2 separate regions of the Homo sapiens genome follow, and region 1 is linked to region 2. Evidence: fine-mapped expression QTL. Tissue or cell type: whole blood. Region 2 holds a variant in brackets; the other region holds the start of a gene. All regions are shown on one strand. Distances are between the middles of the regions.

Region 1 (5,144 bases), 490 kb after region 2:
TGAACCAGGGATGCAGAGGTTGCAGTGAGTCGAGATTGCGCCATTGTACTCTGGCCTGGGGGACAGAGCGAGACTCTGTCTCAAAAACAAAAACACAGCTCCGATTGCAGGCTGTGAAGGGCAGGGAATTGCACTCATTCTCCTCCAGCCCCTTCCCTTACCCAGGTCCAGGCAGCCTCCTTTGTCCCCAACCCCAGGGCTCTTGCTCCAGGCAGTCCTGAGGTTGGACGTAAGGTCGGTGATGCGGCCCTGCCCCCAGACCTTCCCACAGCTTCAGGTTCAGGAAAAGGCACATGAAGTTTGGTATAAACAAGGACACAACTTCACAGAGTTTCTCACTGATTTAAGTTAAATATTCTAGTCTTTAGAGAATGGGTCACATGACTCAGGAATTGCCAACAGCCTGTTTTCACCCAGCGGCTTCCTGGTTTACCCCCTTTAGGAGATGATTAATGGAAATTGAGAATGTGTCTCATAAATTACTTTTTTTTTTTTTAAAGCAGCACAGTTTTAGGAACTTTTCGAGACAGAACAGCTCAGCCAGCCTAGACTTCCACTTGTCCTCCCTCCTCCCACTCCTGCCAATTAACACCAGTCACCAGAGGCAAGAACCGCCTAGATCAGAAGCGACCCCAGGAACCAGGCTTCAGCACCCCTGATCTTCATCAATATTTTCTCAACTTGCCTAATCATAGGACTGAGCTATAATTCTTTAAAAAAAAAAAAAAAACAAAACCCCAACCACACACACACAAACAGAGACAGGGTCTCGCTATGTTGCTCAGGCTGGTCTGGAACTCCTGGCCTCAAGCCATCCTCCCATTCGGGCCTCCCAAAGTACTGGGATTACAGGCCTGAGCCACCGCATCCAGCCCTAGGCTGGAATTCTTAACCCCACTCCTGCTGCTTTTTGCAGGCCTCACTTCTGACTCACTGGGTCTAAGTTTCCGGGAGAGAGCCTCTGGACCCTGTGTTCTAGGCAAACGCCCCTAAGTAACAGCTCCCACTTCAGATGAGCTTAATCTGTGCCAGGTAGTGTTAAGTGCCCTCAATTAACTCATGTTATCCTCACAAGAACCTGCAAGTTAAGAAATTTGCCCAAGAGCACACAGTTATCAAAGGACGGAGCCGGAAGTCCAACCTGGCTATAACTGTAGAGACCACAAACTAGGAGGCAGTGGCTTCTCAGGCAGAAACACAAAGATTCTAAGCCGAGAACAAGAACTAGAGGACCTGGGTGGGGCTGTGTACTGCCCAGATGGTGCTAATGGCAGTTCAAAGGTGAGTGTTTCCTGTAAGTTGGGCCAGCGCCCAGCCTCTGCTCCCCCAGAACCTGGGAGGGCAGCACCCAAGATAACCTGAGCACCCCGTTACCTTGGAGCCCTGAGGCTGTCTCTGGGCCACCCACTCAAGGTGGCCCCCCTACCTGCTCAAGGCTACATACAGAGGGCTGTCCTGCCCAAACAGCCACACCCGAGGGCCGACCCAGTGCTCTGTGTGCCAAGGGAGTTTCTGGCAGAGCCACCTGATACCCCACGTGACAGCTGGCCTCTCCCCCATCACCCAGGGGCTACCCAGGCAGAGAGCTGAGAACACAGGGGCCATCAGCCTCGCTATCACCTCCACCCCCAAGTGCTTGGCTCCCCAAGGGACAGCTCTAAAATCCCCAGAATCTCAGGCTGGTGGGTCCAGCTGAGCATCCTAGTTTTCACTTTCTCCTCCCAAAAAGGAAAGAACCTTGGTCACTAAATTCTACGCCTTCTGGAAATCACTCTGCTAATGACTTCCTGAATGATCGACTGAGACCAACAGCTGGCCCAGCCCTGCATGGAGGAGTAAGAAACCCTCATCTGTCAGAGTTAAGGGGCCTGAATGGGTACAGGTCACATTCTTGGAGCTCAAGGTGACAGGCCAGAGCCCAGGTCCCCAGGACAGTGCAGGTGAGTAGAGCAAGCACCGATCTAGGGCTAAGATGGGGTCTGAATGACCCTGTAAGGTTCCCCACCTGATTTCCCAGGTGGGACCCTGAAGTCAGAGAGAGGCCTGAGAGTTGCAGGGGGGTGGGGGACCGGTGTTGGTGTTAATCTGCCTTTACTTCAAAACCCAGAAGACTCCCAACTATTGGAAAGTGAAACCTCCAAAAGCAAAGCCACCACCCATCCTCCTTCCCCACTCTGATTCAGACATGTTTTCCCTGCCCCAGCAGAAGCAAGGCCCTTCAAAGCAAGACAGGACTAAAGAGAGCCTCAAGGGATACAAAGATCTGCCCCTGATTTGGGGTTTGGGGGGCTAGTACAATGTACTCACATCTAGAAGTGCAGGTAGCTGCAACAAACGCCTCAGATGGGGAACTCTCACCCTGCCTTGGGGATCACTTCCCGGCAGGGCAAGGCAGGCCAAGCCCAGGGGTGGGGCTTGGGAGTTAAAGGGCCCGTGTGCAGCTGGTTCTCATTTTATCCTCCGGGCTGCTTCTGCTGCAGCTGAAGGCACACTGCTCCCTGAGTGCTCATGGGTTTCTACCTTGGAGCCAGCTGGCTGCACTGGAGTGGGACTGGGAGGAGTTGGAGGGCCCGAGATGGGACAGGTGCTAACTGAGGGCACCTCTACCCATCTGGCTTTCATTTTCCAATCTGGGTGAGTACAATTCTGCCTCTCCCTTCAAGTGGGGCCTAACTGTTGAGCTACAGCTACAGCCCCTCCTTTTAAGAGATGATAGCTCTGCATCTTTTATTTCAGACTCAGAAAATTCAGTCCAGGTCTCTGAATAGGTGTTCAATAGAAAACACACACTCACACACTCTCTCTATATAGATGTTCAATAGAAAACACACACACTCTCTCTATAGGTGTTCAATAGAAAACACACACACACACTCTACAGGTGTTCAATAGAAAAAACACACACACACACTCACACTCTCTCTTCCTCTTTCCCGCAACGTGCTGTTTGGGAGCTTGAGGTTTCTCTCTTCTTCCCAAGTTTCTCAATGTCTGGGCTGGGGAAGGAGGGCCCAGGCTCCAGCAGGTACGGACACTGCACCCTAGAGGCAGGAGCAGTGGGAATCAGTATTTCCGCTGCCGAGGGAAGAGACTACTCCCGGAGGATCGGAGTGGGGGGCTGGCGGGGCTGGGGTCCTCCGAGTCCAGGCTGAAGAGGTCCCTCCCGGTACGAAGGATCTGCTCCTCCAGCTTCTTGTGTCTCTTCATGTCCGACAGCACCTTGTCCAGGCGGGCCTCCCGTTTCTGGCTCCGGGCTGAGCTTCCTGGAGAAGAGGAAGGTAAGATACATGGAAGGGATGGAGGTGGTGTACACCATACCTGCCTGGACCTCACTCATCACTTGGGGAGCTGGTTAAACATGCAGGTCCCCAGGCCTCTGTCTTGGAGGACCTGAGGTTCAGGGTTGGACCTCAGAGAGGGTGAGAAGCAAAGATCTTGATTGACAGGAAGGCACAGGTAATGTGAAGAACAGGGAGGAACATACTGGGCAGGGGAATGGCAAGGGTAGAGGCCCCAGGACAAGAACAGAGTTCTGTTCAAAGAAGAGTGCAGGCCGGGCATGGTGGTTCACGCTTGTAATGCCAGCACTTTGGGAGGCTGAGGTGGGCAACTCACGAGGTCAGGAGTTTGAGACCAGCCTGGCCAACACAAAAAATTAGCTGGGCGTGGTGGTGGGCGCCTGTAATCCCAGCTACTTGGGAGGCTGAGGCAGAAGAATCGCTTGAACCCGGGAGGTGGAGGTTGCAATGAGCCAAGATCGCACTACTGCACTCCAGCCTCGGTGACACAGCTACACTCCGTCTCCCCTACTCGCCAAAAACAAAAACAAAAAAAAGAGTGCAGAGAACTGGAGGTGGCGGGAAAAGCGCTTGGATTCTCCTTTGACATGCTCTTCCCTGGCAAGATGGAATCCCTTGGAAAATTTTAAGTGGAAAAGTGACACGATTTATGGCTGAGTGCAGCAGCTCACGCCTGTAATTCCAGCACTTTGGGAAGCTGAGGCAGGCACTTTGGGAAGCTTTAGGTCAGGAGTTCAAGACCAGCCTCGCCAACATGGCGAAACCCCCTCTCTACTAGAAAATACAAAAATTAGCTAGGCGTGGTGACGTGTCCTTGTAATCCCAGCTACTCAGGAGACTGAGGTAGGAGAATCGCTTCAACCCAGGAGGTGGAGATTGCAGTGAGCCAAGATCATGCCACTGCACTCCAGCCTGAGCAAGAGAAAGACTTCGTCTCAAAGAAAAAAAAAGTGATATGATTTATGTTTTAAAAGGTTCATCTGAATTGCAGAAGCTGGAAGCAGAGAGCCCAGTTAGGAGCTACTACAACTATCCAGGCAAGAAAGACAGTGGCTTGGATGGGGATGTGGTATTGAAAGTGGAGACTAGCAGAGGTACTTGGAAATGTACATCTTATAGCTACCAAGACTTGCTGCTGGTGTGAATGTTCAGGTAAAAGAGAGAGAAATCAAGAATGGCTCTAGGCTGGGTGCAGTGACTCATGCCTGTAATCTCAGCACTTTGAGAACCGAGGCGGATGGATCACTTGAGCTCAAGAGTTCGAGACCAACCAGTCTGGGCAACACAGCAAGACTCTGTCTCTCCACCCCTCAAAAAAAAGAAAAAAGGAAAGGCATGACTCTGAGGGTAAATTCTAGGAAGGCATGTGGGGTGGGAAATGGGGCCAGCGGTGTGATTAAAGAATGTACATGGTAGTAGAGGGATGCAGATCTAGATAATATTGAAAGGCCAGGACTTGGACTTCTGGGAATGGGAAACATGATAGAATTATCTGTAATTTTCCAGAATCAATGACTAGTTGTTTTTTTAAAAAAAGAATTATCTGTAATTGTGTTTTTTGAGACGGAGTCTCACTCTCTCGCCCAGGCTGGAGTGCAGTGGTGTGATCTCAGGTCACTGCAACCTCCACCTCCCAGGCTCAAGCGATTCTCCTGCCTCAGCCTCCTGAGTAGCTGGGACTACAGGTGCCCGCCACTATGCCCGGCTAATTTTTTGTATTATAATTGTCTCTTAAAGGAAGACAAGGGGCCAGGCGCATTGGCTCATGCCTGCAATCCTAGCACTTTGGGAGGCTGAGGTGGGCGGATCACAAGGTCAGGAATTCAAGACCAGCCTGGCCAACAT
Region 2 (5,144 bases):
TTCACCTTTACCTTGATTATAAAGTCCCAGTCTACTTTTGAGATTCTTTAGATTTCTGCAGTGTGTAACTCTTTTTTTTTTTTTTTTAAACGGAGTCTCGCTCTGTCACCTAGGCTGGTGTGCAGTGGTGCAATGTAACTCTTAGTGATTCTTAATCTTGGTTGGAATGTGCTATGTTTGGCCTTTTTTTTTTTTTTTTTGGAGACCGAGTCTCACTCTGTTCTCCAGGCCGGAGTGCAGTGGCGAGCTCTCAGCTCACTGCAACCTCCGCCTCTGGGTAAGCGATTCTCCTGCCTCAGCCTCCTGAGTAGCTGGGATTACAGATGTGCACCACCACGCCTGCCTAATTTTTTTGTATTTTTAGTAGAGACTGGGTTTCACCATGTTGGCCAGGCTGATCTCGAACTCCTGAACTCAGGTAATCTGCTTACCTCGGACTCCCAAACAGCTGGGAGTACAGGTGTGATCAACTGTGCCTGGCCTATGTTTGGCATTTAACTGGTGGGGGAGGGATGCATATCTTTGTACATTTTCAGCCTTTTTTGTCCTTCATCTGTTAAAGAGGTCATAGAGTAAGACATTTCCTTTTAATCTTGGCAATTTCCCAGGCCAAATGATAGGTTTCTAGGGTACTTCCAGGACTTAACTGACAAAAGGGGAAGATAAGCGATGCAATTGAGAGCTGAAGTAGGGTCTCTCTTTTTTTTTTTTTTTTTTTGGAGTCTTGTTCTGTCGCCCAGGTGGGAATGCAGCGGCGTGATCTCGGCTCACTACAACCTCCGGCTTCACTACAACCTCCGGCTCACTACAACCTCTGTCTCCCGGGTTCAAATGATTCTCCTGCCTCAGCCTCCTGAGTAGCTGGGACTACAGGCACCACACCACCAGGCCTGGCTAAGTTTTTGTGTATTTTTAGTAGAGGCAGGGTTTCACCATGTTGGTCAGGCTGGTCTCGAACTCCTGACCTCATGATCCGCCCGCCTTGGCCTCCCAAAGTGCTGGGAGTATAGGCGAGAGCAACTGTGCCCGGCGAAGCAGCATCTCTTTTTAAGGTTGTAAGGTAGCTTGGGTTAGAAATAAAGGCAGAGAGCCACTCCATACCTGTAGTTCTAGCTACTGGGGAGGCTAAGACCAGAGGATCTCTTGAGCCCAGGAGTTCAAGGCTGCAGTGAGCTGTAATCACACACTGCACTACAACGTGGGCAACATAGAGTGAGACCTAATTAAAAAATAAATAAATAAATAAATAAATAAATGCAAGGAGAAAGTCATGAACTTGGTGCATTTAGGTGTACAATTAGTTGGCATAAACAATTTTTTTTTTTTGAGATGGAGTTTCTCTCTTGTTGCCCAGGCTGGAGTGCAGTGGCACAGTCTCGGCTCACTGCAACCTCCGCCTCCTGGGTTCAAGTGATTCTCTTGCCTCAGCCTCCGGAGTAGCTGGGATTACAGGTGCCCGCCACCACGCCCAGCTAATTTTTGTATTTTTAATAGATGGGGTTTCGCCATATTGGCCAGGCTGATCTTGAACTCCTGACCTCAAGTGATCCGTCCGCCTCAGCCTCCCAAAGTGCTGGGATTACAGGCGTGAGCCACTATGCCAGCCAAGAATTTTTAAAAAAGGAGTTTCATTCAGCCCACCTCATTCCTCTGCAGGGCACCTGTGTGCAGGGCAAAACTGCTCAACCCTACTCAGCAGCCCTGTGAAAGCTGCTGAAAGGATGAGCAGATTGAGGCCTGAACTGTATCTTGGATTTAGCAGCCTGGAGGTCATAATGGATTTTGCCAAGAGTGATGGGGCAGAATTTGGACCAGTGTGTGTTAAGGAGCTAGAAGAAGTGAAGAAATGGGAGAGGGGAGTCTAGACAACTTTAGTTTGGCTGCAGCAAGTAAAGGCAGATTGTTCGATGGAGGGACATGTGGGATTGATGGAGTTTTTCCTTTTTATATGTTTTTGCATTTTTCAATGGGATACATTAGAAAGTGTTGCATGTTTATGGGGGGGATTTAGTTCAGTGGGAAAAGTATTTGAAAAGTTACAGTAAGGTAGAAGTAGATGGAATCCTCAGTAAG[G/T]TCTAGAATCGGGTGCAGGTATTTTATGGTATCTTCCCCACCCCTCCCCGAGATGGAGTTTCGCTCTTATTATTGCCCAGGCTCTGGAGTGCAGTGGTGCAGTCTTGGCTCGCTGCAACCTCCACCTCCTGGGTTCAAGCGATTCTCCTGCCTCAGTCTCCCGTGGAGCTGAGATTACAGGTGCGCACCACCACACCCAGCTAATTTTTGTATTTTTAGTAGAGATGAGGTTTCACCATTTTGGCCAGGCTGGTGTCCAACTCCTGACATCAAGTGATCCACCCGCCTTGGCCTCCCAAAGTGCAGGGATTACAGGCGTGAGCCACCGTGCCCAGCTGGTACCTTTTTTTTTGTTGGTGAAGTAGAATGTGTGTATGGGGAGGGGAGGTGGATAGGATATTTTGGAATTTGAAGATAATGGGAATGTCTGGATAGTGCATGTATAGAATGGGAAGTAAACACTGGAGGACCTGGGAGTGTGGTGCTTATTGATGGATCGTTGGGTTTATCCAGGATTGGGGTTTTGCCAGATGGCTGTGATGAAAATCTTAAGAGTTAAGGGTATAGGCAAGAGTGTTGTTGAAATGACACACAATGAAATCTAAGCTGGTTAAAGAAGTGAAGAAGGGGCCGGGCACGTTGGCTCACGCCTGTAATTCCAGCACTTTGGGAGGCCGAGGCGGGTGGGATCCCTTGAGGTCAGGAGTTCGAGACCAGCCTGGCCAACATGGTGAAACCCCGTCTCTACTAAAAATACAAAAATTAGCCGGGTGTGGTAGCAGGGGCCTGTAATCTCAGCTACTTGGGAGGCTGAGGCAGGAGAATCGCTTGAACCTGGAGGTGGAGGTTGCAGTGAGCCAGTATTGCACCACTATACTCCAGCCTGGGCAACAAAGTCAGAGTCTGTCTCAAAAAAAAAAAAAAAAAAAAAAAAAAGTGAAGAAGGAGGAGAATACTTGGATTGGGATAAAGTAGAAAGAGTCACTGGAATTAAAGTTAACTAAAAAACTCATAAACTTTAGAATGGTACTGAGAAATTGTAAGGTGAACTGAAAAAGGCTCATGGGATTTTAGAGCCAAGAAGTCCTTGAGTGGCAGTTCCTACCTTAGTAGGAATAGCTTCAGTGGTGTGTTGCAGGTGGAACCCAGATTAAAGTGCGTTAAAAAGTAAATGAAGGCAAGGAAGATACATTTTTCAACAGGTTTGTCTGTGAAGAGTCCAGGCTATTAGATTGATAGAGGGAGAAAGGCAGTTAAAGGGTTTTTTTGTTTTTTGTTTTTTTTTTTGAGTCAGAGTCTCACACTGTTGCCTGGTCTGGAGTGCAATGGCGCGACCTCGGCTCACTGCAACCTCCGCCTCCGGGGTTCAAGTAGTTCTCCTGCCTCAGCCTCCCAACTAGCTGGGATTACAGGCGCCCACCACCACACCTGGCTAATTTTTTGTATTTTTAGTAGAGATGGGGTTTCACTATGTTGCCCAGGCTGGTCTCAAACTCCTGACCTCATGATCTGCCTGCCTCACCCTCCCAAAGTGCTGGGATTACAGGCGTGAGCCACCGTGCCCGGCCTTATTTTCTTAATTTTTAAATTTATTTTATTATTATTATTATTTTTGAGATGGAGTCTCTCTGCCGCCCAGGCTGGAGTGCAATGGTGCAGTCTCGGCTCACTGCAACCTCTGCCTCCCGGATTCGAGCGATTCTCCTGCCTCAGCCTCCTGAGTAGCTGGGATTGCAGGCGCCCGCCACCACGCCTGGCTGATATTGGTATTTTTAGTAGAGACGGGGTTTCACTACATTGGCCAGGCTGGTCTTGAACTCCTGACCTCATGATCCACCCACCTTGGCCTCCCAAAGTGCTGGGATTACCAGCGTGAGCCACTGCACCCGGCCTTTAGTTTTTTTTTGAGACAGAGTCTTGCTCTGTCGCCAGGCTGGAGTGTAGTGGCACGATCTCGGCTCACTGCAAGCTCTGCCTCCCGGGTTCAAACGATTCCCCTGCCTCAGCCTCCCAAGTAGGTGGGACTACAGGTGCGTGCCACCACGCGCAGGTAGTTTTATTTTTTCTATTTTAGTAGAGACGGGGTTTCACCATGTTGGCCAGGGTGGTCTCAATCTCCTGACCTTATGATCTGCCTGTCTTCGCCTCCCAAAGTGCTGGGATTACAGGCGTGAGCCACCGTGCCCGGCCATTTTTTGTTTTTGTTTTTGTTTTTTTTAAAGTAAGACTTTTGAGAGTGCTCATATGTTGACGATGTGATAAGCAGTAGTAAAATGGGAGATTTTGCAACATACAAAAGAAACAGGCCGGGTGCAGTGGCTCAAGCCTGTAATCCCAGCACTTTGGGGAGGCCAAGGTGGGCGGATCACGAGGTCAGGAGATCGAGACCATCCTGGCTAACATGGTGAAACCCCGTCTCTACTAAAAATACAAAAAATTAGCCGGGCATGGTGGTGGGCGCCTGTAGTCCCAGCTACTCGGGAGGCTGAGGCAGGAGAATGGCGTGAATCTGGGAGGCGGTGAGTCGAGATCACGCCACTGCACTTCAGCCTGGTCGACAGAGCGAGACTACATCTCAAAAAAAAAAGACAAGACATACCTTGGAAAATGGGGGGAATAGACAGATCCAGATGATTTCTATGGATAGGAGGTTTATTTGTTCCATTATGCGAAGATGATGGGAAGAAAAGCTGTATGTGCAGATGCAGGTGAATTTGTGGATATATTAGAAGGAAGATGACAGGCAGCGTTGGAGTGTTGAAGAGCTCAAACATTAGACAGTACTGGGTCTGAGTTCTGACTCTGCCTTTTACAAGCTGTGCAACCTTAGGCCAGTTATGAAACCTTAGTTATCAAGTTATAACTAATAGGATTGTGTTGAACACGAAATGACATGATAAACATATGTAAACTGCTTGGATCAGTTGCCCACTAGCTCTTGTTAGGAGCTAAAATGTTAGCTCTTGCTGAGGGTGCTGTCAAATGGCTTCTATTTCTCATGGAGCAGAAATCTATAAGGTCATCCACTGGTAGTGGTGGGAGAAGGGAGAAGGTGCAGAAAGTTTTACAGA

Evidence for each region. PIP is the estimated chance that this variant, and not a neighbour inherited with it, causes the effect.
Region 1: it holds the start of MVP, and the variant in region 2 is fine-mapped to the expression of MVP in whole blood (TOPMed, PIP above 0.99). The same link has a PIP of 0.9 or more in tibial artery.

The regions. Positions count from the first base shown.
Region 1 is chr16:29,817,674-29,822,817 of GRCh38, reverse strand. It overlaps MVP (major vault protein), which reads right to left and starts at 2,356. Exons shown (of 15, transcript NM_005115.5): 1 at 2,308-2,356. PAGR1 (PAXIP1 associated glutamate rich protein 1) reads right to left here. Exons shown (of 3, transcript NM_024516.4): 3 at 329-3,263. The coding sequence ends at 3,064. It overlaps MVP-DT (MVP divergent transcript), which reads left to right and starts at 2,451. Exons shown (of 4, transcript NR_186424.1): 1 at 2,451-2,634; 2 at 3,217-3,278. RefSeq lists enhancers at 1,633-1,922, 1,385-1,951, 2,643-2,712.
Region 2 is chr16:30,312,465-30,317,608 of GRCh38, reverse strand. It overlaps the pseudogene SMG1P5. Among named protein-coding and RNA genes, the nearest start is that of CD2BP2, 40 kb to the left of the region's middle. The variant G/T (reference allele first, on the strand shown) is at 2,074.